Homo sapiens: one gene and its partners. The protein of the gene in region 1 interacts with the protein of each later gene in a biochemical or structural test. Each region holds a gene or a part of one and is shown in the gene's direction. Other genes may lie near its edges. The genes, in order: KIF14, CLK1 and TUBG1.

What was found.
Region 2: of the proteins of KIF14 (region 1) and CLK1, one has a biochemical effect on the other in vitro, tested with the Homo sapiens proteins (one large-scale study listed by BioGRID).
Region 3: the proteins of KIF14 (region 1) and TUBG1 interact in a test that uses a peptide from one of them, tested with the Homo sapiens proteins (one study listed by BioGRID).

What each region holds. Positions count from the first base shown.
Region 1 is NC_000001.11:200,610,600-200,614,253, reverse strand, and holds part of KIF14 (kinesin-like protein KIF14), read left to right. Parts: intron 1-3,654. UniProt on the Homo sapiens protein: Microtubule motor protein that binds to microtubules with high affinity through each tubulin heterodimer and has an ATPase activity. Plays a role in many processes like cell division, cytokinesis and also in cell proliferation and apoptosis.
Region 2 is NC_000002.12:200,858,137-200,861,790, reverse strand, and holds part of CLK1 (dual specificity protein kinase CLK1), read left to right. Parts: coding exon 1-89; intron 90-324; coding exon 325-553; exon of another isoform or gene 554-1,575; coding exon 1,576-1,666; exon of another isoform or gene 1,667-2,044; coding exon 2,045-2,111; intron 2,112-3,654. UniProt on the Homo sapiens protein: Dual specificity kinase acting on both serine/threonine and tyrosine-containing substrates.
Region 3 is NC_000017.11:42,612,683-42,615,892, forward strand, and holds the end of TUBG1 (tubulin gamma-1 chain), read left to right. Parts: intron 1-264; coding exon 265-391; intron 392-964; coding exon 965-1,051; intron 1,052-1,166; coding exon 1,167-1,316; intron 1,317-1,577; coding exon 1,578-1,730; intron 1,731-1,813; coding exon 1,814-1,975; intron 1,976-2,161; coding exon 2,162-2,359; 3' UTR 2,360-2,556; downstream 2,557-3,210. UniProt on the Homo sapiens protein: Tubulin is the major constituent of microtubules, protein filaments consisting of alpha- and beta-tubulin heterodimers. Gamma-tubulin is a key component of the gamma-tubulin ring complex (gTuRC) which mediates microtubule nucleation.

The sequences.
Region 1 (3,654 bases):
CAGTCATGGCCACTAAGGAAATACTTAATGGAAGATCAGTTCTAATTTGTAGATCACTCTTCTTTGGAACAGTGGTATGGAGAGGGAGGGTGGAAATTCTAAATTCAGAATCAGTTTCACCTAGTGGGCAGTGATAGTGAAGTCATCTCTTCTGTCTTTTCTCCCTTGTTTTTGCTTTACTTTTGTGTATACGTAGAGGCTCACAAACATGGTAGCTATGTGCTGTTATACGTGTGTTTGTAGTCAGATAGGTGTACAGTTTAACTAAGGACAGCAGGCATAACCTTTTGGACAACGTGAATCAGAAAGAGTAGTGAAATTGGGATTTGAACCCAGAGTTGACTTCAAAAGCCATGCTTTTTCCACTCTACTACACCTGAATAGGCTGTACTGGCTTCCTATTTCACTTATTCATTTACACATTCAGCTACCTTTTACTGAGCATTCTGCTGTTGCCAGGCAGCTTGTTAGATCAGTTTTTTTTTTTCTCAAATTTTCTTGGTCATAAGAATCACCGGGGATTCTTGGCAGGGACATATATGTGCATGTGTATGTGTATGTACACACTTGCTAAAAATCTCTTCTGGGGGTTCTGAGTCAGTTGGTCTGGTGTAGAGCTTGGGATTTTATAATTTTCATGCTTTTCCTCCAGTATTTTTTATGATAAAGGAAATTGGGAAAATTGTGCTAGATTAGGGGTGTGGAGTTAAAAGACCCAGTCCCTGTATTCAAAGGAGTGTAGTGGGAGAAATAAGTTAACAGCCAAGTACAATCAATTAAATGCTAAACAAACTAAAGTAGATGCTCTAATAGAACATGTAAGTGAGGACATATAAAGTTGGAGGGAGACATTCTCTCAGAGGAAGGAGCAGCTGAGCTTATTTTTGAAGGATACATAGCATTATTAGCTTGGTAAAGAAGGGGAGAAGGATATTCCAGGGAGAGGGAGCAGCATGTACCAAGATTTGAAAGCAAAAAAGTAGGGAGCCTTTGGGAATCTATAAATTGTTCACTGTGTTTTGAGCATGGAATTTGAGGGTGGAAAGTGATAAGAGAAGAAACTAGAGGCTGGGTGCGGTGGCTCATGCCTGTAATCCCAGTACTTTGGGAGGCCGAAGCGGGCAGATCACCTGAGGTCAGGAGTTCGAGACCAGCCTGGCCAACATGGTGAAATCCTGTCTCTACTAAAAATACAAAAATTAGCCAGGTGTGGTGGCACATGCCTGTAATCCCATCTACTTGGGAGGCTGAGGCAGGAGAATCGCTTGAACCAGGGAGATGGAGGTTGCAGTGAGCCGAGATCGCGCCACTGCACTCCAGCCTGGGTGACAGAGCATGACTCCATCTCAAAAAAAAAAAAAAAAAAAAAAAAGAGAATAAACTAGAAAGGCCTGCAGAACTTGGCTCATGAAGGACTGTCTTAGTAAGGATAACTGGTAAGACTTGCTGATTATTGGAAATGGAGGATGAGGGAGAGAGAAATCAATGTTTCTGGTTGGACAACCAGATTAGATATCGATGTCATTTTTTGAGATCACAAGAGGAAAAGTAGATTTGAGTAATTGATGAGTTCTGTCTCTTCTGTGGATATACTGCCTCTCCTCTGTCTTCTTCTACCCTCAACCTCTCATTCCCAGTAATTAAATTGAAAATAGGAGGAGTATGGGGATCAATAGAAATATGGTGGTATTGAGACTATGAGATGAAATATGATTCAAGTCCAAGTTTAGTGGGCATAAGAGAAAGCTGTGGGCTTGTGGGGCAGAGTTCTCTATTGGCTCTCCAGATTTTAGAGGGATAGTAATTTGAAGGTAAAGCCAGGAAGACATAGATAAGTGTAGTGGAGGCAAAGGTCTTTGGAATGATTTCAAAGGACTAGGAGGCTCAGATTTTGCGTGGAATGACTATGTCATTGAATAACATAGTGTAATGAATGCTTAAGAGCCTGGTTGGCCAGGCATGGTGGCTCACGCCTGTAATCCCAGCACTTTGGGAGGCCAAGGCAGGCGGATCACCTGAGGTCAGGAGTTTGAGACCAGCCTGGCCAACATGGTGAATCCCTGTCTCTACTAAGAATACAAAAATTAGCCAGGTGTGGTGGTGGGCGCCTGTAATCCTAGCTATTCGGGAGGCTGAGGTAGGAGAATCGCTTGAACCCTGGAGGCGGACATTGCACTGAGCTGAGATCATGCCACTGTACTCCAGCCTGGGCGACAGAGCAAGACTCTGTCTCAAAAAAAAGAAAAAAAAAAAGAGCATGGACTTTGGAGATACATTATTTGAATTTGAATCTCAGCTTCATCACTGCAGTAGAAATGTGATCTTGAACAATTTACTTAATGTCTTTCTGTGTTTCAGAACAGAAAATAGAGATTATATTGACAATGTCTTTCTCATAGGTTTGTTGTGAGCATTAAATGAGTTGATCTATACAAAAGGTTTTGAAGAGTGCCTGGCACATAGTGAGCCCAACTAAATGTGGTTATATCAACTTTGGAATTAGCCAGGATGGTAGAGAATAATAGTATGTGGATGGGGGTAATAGAAGGTGGTATAGCGAGCATGATGGCAGGAGCCTCAGAGGAGAAGAAAAAAGTAGGACCTCTCCAGTGTGGCCCCAGCTACCTTTTCCAATTTGTTTCCCACACTACATTTTCATTTCTAAGTCCTCCTGGAGCCTCTATAACATAAAATACTATTTTACATAAAATAAGCATTATTACGTGTTTATTGAATTCTGACAGCCCCCATCCCTGTTCATAGCATTTGTCAATGACCTTATAATTACTTGGTGTTCCCTTATACCTGGTCTCTTTGGAAGTGTTTTGTTTCTCTCTCATGACACCAGCTATATTCTGCCTTGTATTACTCATGTACTGTATTGCATCTCCAATTAGCTTCTGAGTTTTTTCAGGATAAAAACTATGTCCAGTTCATCTCATATTTTCCCACAGCTCCTAGAAGAGTGCTTTGTACCTAGTAGGGCACAATAAATATTTGGTGAATTGAACTTAAATCTCTTTGACACTCCCTTGAAGCTTCCAATTCTGTTAGATGCTTGCTGACTCACTTCTGGGTCAGTGGATGAAATTTATTTCTCTAATAAGGAAACCATGCCCTAACTGTCAGAAGAGCTGTTTGGAAGCAAAGTTTCCCGTTTTTGGCCTCTACACTGTATCTTTCAGAGTCAAAAGGAGGAGAAGCTCAGCCCACTTAATCTAATGATTGCTTTCTCTCCCAATCAGGAAGAATTGTTGATTTAAGGTTCCATCTTACCAGATCAAATGTCAACCTACAGGGTGTCTTTCCTATTCTGAGCACATGTGATGCACAGATGCTGCTGTCCTTGCCCGAGAATGCCCTACCCCCTCTTTCTGGTTCAATCTACTCTGTCTCTCATGCCTCACATTCTATTTACTCCTTCCCTTTTCTCTGGCCATCCTAAATTTTCCCTTTTCTGATTAGTCATATTTATAGTCATCTCATTTTGATTCTTAATTAATTTTCTATTGCTGTGTTTTATCTATTGGAAGGTATGTTATATGTCTCTGAGATCTTAGCCTCATGAGCAAGAATCTTGTCTTATACTTCTTTATGTCCTGACAATAACCTAAAGCCAAACATGCAGTAGGTAGGTACTTAAGAAATGCTTAT
Region 2 (3,654 bases), on another chromosome or scaffold:
AGCAGCAGTCATAAAAGAAGGAAGAGATCACATAGCAGTGCCCAGGAGAACAAGCGCTGCAAATACAATCACTCTAAAATGTGTGATAGGTAAGGAGGATACTTAAAATGTCTGAATATAACAATACATTACTAGACAAAACTAGTATCACTTAAAATAAGTACCTGATTACTACCATTCGTTTGTTTCCAATGAGAGATTTTGATGGTTTGTAATGTTTGTAAAATTAAGCTGCTTGTGGGGGAGTCTAGGTGCTGTCTTGAAGAGAATGTGAGGATATTTGGTCTTAGCATAAAACATTGAAAATAATTTTTATTTCTCTAGCCATTATTTGGAAAGCAGGTCTATAAATGAGAAAGATTATCATAGTCGACGCTACATTGATGAGTACAGAAATGACTACACTCAAGGATGTGAACCTGGACATCGCCAAAGAGACCATGAAAGCCGGTATCAGAACCATAGTAGCAAGTCTTCTGGTAGAAGTGGAAGAAGTAGTTATAAAAGCAAACACAGGATTCACCACAGTACTTCACATCGTCGTTCACATGGGGTATGAACGTTTTTAAAACATTTTGGAAATTTTATATCCCATGTGGAACAGGGAAACTTGAATTTTTGTGTTTGATTATTTGAGAAAGTTTTAAGATGAAATCATCTCAGTTTTAACCTGCAGGATTTTTTCTGTGTTTGTGCATTGGATAGGAAATTCCGGAAATAAAGTACACATTTAGTTCTATAATTTAATTATTGGTTGGCTCCTAATTGACATTCCAGTGAAATGATGGGAGTTAATTGATTTAATTTAGATTAGTTGAAAATTATTACAAAATATTCTAAAAGGGTTTTTTGTGGTACTTCAAGAAACCTGATTAGTTTTGATCTATTGAAATCACAAAAGTAGAACAGGGCATTTTATTTTTGTATAATTTAGGATTAGGTATGCTTCTTTGTTCTAACAAGTCATGTTTTCTAACCCTTCTTTCACTAAGCAAACCAGAACAGATTTGAACTGTTATGGGTTATATATTAGTATGGAGATCAGCTCAGATGACATTAAAAATGCCGTAGTGTTATTCTTGTATGCCAAATCTTTTTTTCCCCAAAATTAGCACTTTAATTTTATTTACTGTTATAATATTTGTTTTCTTAGATTAGGTAGGAAATCTTAATTTGGCCACCGCCTACTTTGACAAGTAAATATTACATCATACGATTTTGCAACATTAAATTAGAACACTAGAAACTAAAAAATTATGTTTCAGTGAATGCTACAACTAAGCATTTTTTTTTTTTAAGAAAAACAATTGTATTATGTTTTGTTGCCTTGCCACTTTGAGTATCTTATCTGAAAATCTGTTCCTTGCCATGTTTTTCTCCTGTTAACATAAACTATGTGCCCTGTGAATTTCTGGGGACTGAATTTGAAATTGCTCCTGCCAACCGTTTGTGGCCTGGCGTGTATCTGAATGCCTGAATATCTCCCCGCTGAATGAATTTCGTATTCTGCCCTGAATTCACTCGGGTATATTGATTGGCTGGATGATCTTGGTGCCGCCCACTTGACGTTTCCAGAAGAGTCACCGAAGGAAAAGAACCAGGAGTGTAGAGGATGATGAGGAGGGTCACCTGATCTGTCAGAGTGGAGACGTACTAAGTGCAAGATGTATAGAATATTTTTCAACACTTATTAACTTTTCAGATAACATAATCTATATATAGATTAAGCTTTCAGGGATTTGGAAATCTTTTTTTCTTTCTCTTTTTTGTTTTTGTTTTATTTTTCCATTTCTTTTGGTGGGGGGGATTGTATTTTTGCTTTCTTTAGAAATGTAATGTTTGTTATATAGAACTTCCAGAACAGTAATCAAATTAATGAAATTAGACCTAATAATTATGTTTTTTGATGGTGTTGACCAATAAAATATCTAGTGATAAGGAAATTTGTAGCATCAACTAGAATAATCTACATTGATAGCATTTATTGTGATAAGTACATTGTTTCCACTTCTTGATATGACTGAGATTTATTTCTCTCTTTTAGATGAAATTGTTGATACTTTAGGTGAAGGAGCTTTTGGAAAAGTTGTGGAGTGCATCGATCATAAAGCGTAAGTTTCCCATGTTGGGATTACTTTTAGGGAAGTTGGCAATACAGGTAATTGATTTAGCTTTAGAAAGTGGTCTGACCATGAGTTAGATACATATCTTTATACCCTTTTTTACTTGGATGTAAGACACTTCCAGTTAAGAGGTACTTGCCCCTTCATATTTTTTAAACAGCTACTAATAGTATGTATAATTTCTAATTTTAGGCTGAGAACACACTTTATATTGTTTTGAAAGTATTGTTTTGTTGTTCAACTGGACACTGTTGTTAGGCCATATTTTTTTCCCCCACCATATTAGTGGTTCTCAGCCTTGGTTTTATGTTAAGATCCTCCTCGAGAGGTTTGCCTACCCCAGACCTTTTCAGGGTAGTTACCTAGGAATCTATATTTTTAGGAAGTGCTGTAATTCATTCTGATAACATAGCTGGAGATAACTTGGTGTCCCAAGTTTAATTATGTATGTTTATCAAACTACTGATTGAAATTTTTTTTTTTCTCGAGACAGAGTCTCGCTCTGTCACCCAGGGTGGAGTGCAGTGGCGCAATCTCAGCTCACTGCACCCTCTGCCTCCCGGGTTCAGGTGATTGTTCTGCCTCAGCCTCCTGAGTAGCTGGAACTACAGACACGCGCCACCATGCCCAGCTATTGTTTGTATTAGTATTGTATTGTTTGTATTAGTAGAGACTATGTTGGCCAGGCTGGTCTCGAACTCCTGACCTCAGGTGACCTGCCCACCTCAGCCTCCCAAAGTGCTGGGATTACAGGCATGAGCGCTTGGCTCCAGCCATGAAATTTCTTAAGATAGTATAGAATTTTTTCCGTTACTCTTTTTTTTTAGTTCCCTGTTTGTTGTTGTTGTTGTTGTTGTTGTTATTGTTCTTCCTCTTCCTGAATGGCAAAGCATTTTTGAGGGGGCTTCCTACTATTGATTGGTAAGGACATGAGAGCTAGAGCTCTTTTTTTGTTTATTTTTCTTTTCCCTGAGATGGAGTCTTGGTCTGTCGCCCAGGCTGGAGTGCAGTGGTGCAATCTTGGCTCACTGCAACCTCCACCTTCCGAGTTCAAGTAATTCTCCTGCCTCAGCCTCCCAGGAAGCTGGGATTACAGGCACACACCACCGTGCCTGGCTAATTTTCATATTTTTGGTAGAAATAGGGTTTCACCATGTTGGTCAGGCTGGTCTCGAACTTCTGACCTCAAGTGATTTACTACCCTCGGCCTCCCAAAGTGCTGGGATTATAGGCGTGAGAGCCACTGCTCCCGGTCCTAGAGCTCTTTACTCTTTCCCCACTGTATCCTAACTCTTTTGGCAACCTGGACTAAAAGAACATTTGAGATAATGTTTGACAGTGACAGGTACCATATAGGAAGAAGTTGTTTAGCTGAAATACCAAAAAATAACTCATGTGAGTGGTGGTTTGATGAAAGAAATTTGTGTCATTCAGCATGTAATAGAATCAGAACTGAACACTAAACCATAAATTAAAAAAATACAGTGGGTCAGAGTAGTAGTACAGTTTGAAGACAGTAATACCTGGAATT
Region 3 (3,210 bases), on another chromosome or scaffold:
GAACTGGAGCCTAGAACCTGAGCCCTGGATGAAAGTCGAGGGAGTGTGGCCAGGTCTCAATTTGGAAGCCCAGAGTCTAAGATGTCTCTGCCCTTCCCCCTGTAGGGCTACAGACTTCCAAAAGTCAAGGCTCCCTTCTCTACTGATTTGACCCCACCCCAGTTTCGCCATCAAGATTTATCTGCTTCTGGACAGTTGTTAGGGAGCGCCATGTTCACCAGGCCTTCGGTCTGTTGCCCTGATCCTTTCCCCAACCCCCACCAGGTATCCTAAGAAGCTGGTGCAGACATACTCAGTGTTTCCCAACCAGGACGAGATGAGCGATGTGGTGGTCCAGCCTTACAATTCACTCCTCACACTCAAGAGGCTGACGCAGAATGCAGACTGTGTGGTGAGTCCTGGATTCTACCTCTCCCAACTCTCAACACCCCATACCCACTCGAGTCTATTAAATCATTTTCATGTATTTAAAAAAAATCCATTTTAGCCAGGTGCAGTGGCTCATGACTGTAATCCCATCACTTTGGGAGGCCAAGGTCGTTGGATCGTTTGAGTTTAGGAGTTCGAGACCAGCCTGGGCAACATGGCGAAACCCCATCTCTACTAAAAATACAAAAATTAGTCGGGAGTGGTGATATGTGCAGAAGGATCACTTGTGCCTCAGAGGCAGGGGCTGCAGTGAGCTGAGATCATGTCACTGACTGCACTCCAGCCGGGGTGACAAAGTGAAACCCTGTCTCAAAAAACAAGAACAAAAAAAAAAACTGTTTAAATAATTAAGATGAAAAGAAAAATTTAAAAATCCATTTTGAGCCCTCCTTTGCCCTAGGTCAGTGCAAATCTCTTTCCAGTGAGTCTTTCTGGCCATGAAGCTCAAAGGAAATTAAGCTTCAGAGCCTAGGGTCAGGCAGAGCTCCTGTTTTTCTTATCCCCATTGATCTGTGATCCTCTTCTGTCCCCCCAGGTGGTGCTGGACAACACAGCCCTGAACCGGATTGCCACAGACCGCCTGCACATCCAGAACCCATCCTTCTCCCAGATCAACCAGCTGGTGGGCCCCCACTCCTGGACTCCTTTGGACTTGAAGCCCTCCTTGTTGGAGGGTCATTTGGGGAAGGGAGGTCCCACCCAGGCTGAGGCCCATAACATGGCACGCCTGTCCCCAGGTGTCTACCATCATGTCAGCCAGCACCACCACCCTGCGCTACCCTGGCTACATGAACAATGACCTCATCGGCCTCATCGCCTCGCTCATTCCCACCCCACGGCTCCACTTCCTCATGACCGGCTACACCCCTCTCACTACGGACCAGTCAGTAAGAGCAGCCTTCAGTGTCCCAGGCCAGGCCGGCCCTGGGCCCAACAGGCCCTGTCCTAGCCTTTCTCTCTTCCCCACTGCCCCAGGAGCTACCCTTTGTGGACCCCAAGGCGCGGCGCTCAGGGACTGGCACAGAGTGGGCGACTTTCTTGCTGACTTGCTCTCCACCCTCCCTCTGCCTTTGGCTTCTGCCAAAGAGAAGCCAAAGGGGGACTGTGCCCTGAGCGCTGGCCGGGTCCCTGTCTCACTGTCCTATCAGGTGGCCAGCGTGAGGAAGACCACGGTCCTGGATGTCATGAGGCGGCTGCTGCAGCCCAAGAACGTGATGGTGTCCACAGGCCGAGACCGCCAGACCAACCACTGCTACATCGCCATCCTCAACATCATCCAGGGAGAGGTGGACCCCACCCAGGTAGGGGAGGCCCCTTCATCCCACACCCTGGACCTGCAGGGGTAGAGGAGAGGCCACCTCCACTGCTCCTATGCCCACCCCAGGTCCACAAGAGCTTGCAGAGGATCCGGGAACGCAAGTTGGCCAACTTCATCCCGTGGGGCCCCGCCAGCATCCAGGTGGCCCTGTCGAGGAAGTCTCCCTACCTGCCCTCGGCCCACCGGGTCAGCGGGCTCATGATGGCCAACCACACCAGCATCTCCTCGGTGAGTCTCAAAGTTTGCACCTTTTTTCCCTGAATCAGTTTCCTGACTATACCTCACCTCTCTGCATCTGCTGGCCCTGCTTCTAGCTTTTTTGCTGTGGGCATAGCCCAGCCTTGGTTCCCCAGCTTTCTGGGCCACGTTATTCTTTGAAGTTCTTTGTAACCCCTGTTTTCTGCACACCCCAAGCTCTTCGAGAGAACCTGTCGCCAGTATGACAAGCTGCGTAAGCGGGAGGCCTTCCTGGAGCAGTTCCGCAAGGAGGACATGTTCAAGGACAACTTTGATGAGATGGACACATCCAGGGAGATTGTGCAGCAGCTCATCGATGAGTACCATGCGGCCACACGGCCAGACTACATCTCCTGGGGCACCCAGGAGCAGTGAGTCCCCCAGGACAGGGACCCTCATCTGCCTTACTGGTTGGCCCAAGCCCTGCCTGACTGACCACCCCCTCAGAGCACAGATCAGGGACCTCACGCATCTCTTTCTCATATACATGGACTCTCTGTTGGCCTGCAAACACATTTACTTCTCCTCTTATGAGACTATTTATCTTTAATAAAGCACTGGATATAAATCAAGTCACTGCTCCCTTTAAAGCCTTTGGGTTCTGGAGATGCGGTGGGGATGCCTGTTCTTTCTCCATCATTCTGACAGGGTCCTCACCCACTTCCAGCATCTTCAATTCTGAACCAACAGCTTCCCCTAGGTTTTTCCTCTGCCTAGTTTTGGAGAACGCTGGTGGGGTTTGACCCACCTGAAATTCCTTTCCAGGGTAAAAAGGCCCAGAGATATTACTTTGTTCTCTGTCTGACCCTTTCTGGGTCCCCGTTCCCTCCCACCCTCACTGTATCAGGTGAATATTCCACCAGCCTCATGTTTCCACATCAGAGTGTCTGATTAATCACAACCTGAGGCCCAAGGCCACCACCACTGCCACTAGGCCATGAACAAGCAATGGAGTCCAACCCAATACCTTTAAGCTTCTAGCAAGCAGTCCAGGAGAGCCGCTCGTTTCAGGCAGTTGGAGTCTAGCAGCATCAAGTCAGCGACCAAATCTAAAACCTAGACTGTAAGCAGGATCATAAGTGGTTCCATAGCTAAGGCACCGTAATTCTCTTCTCTAGTGGTTGCCAGTAATTTAAATGGCCAGTGCCTTCTACTTCTGGTGGAAGATTGCAGGGAGGTAGTAAATACATAGGGGCCTAAGTCTTCAGGATTGTTTTTTTTTTTTT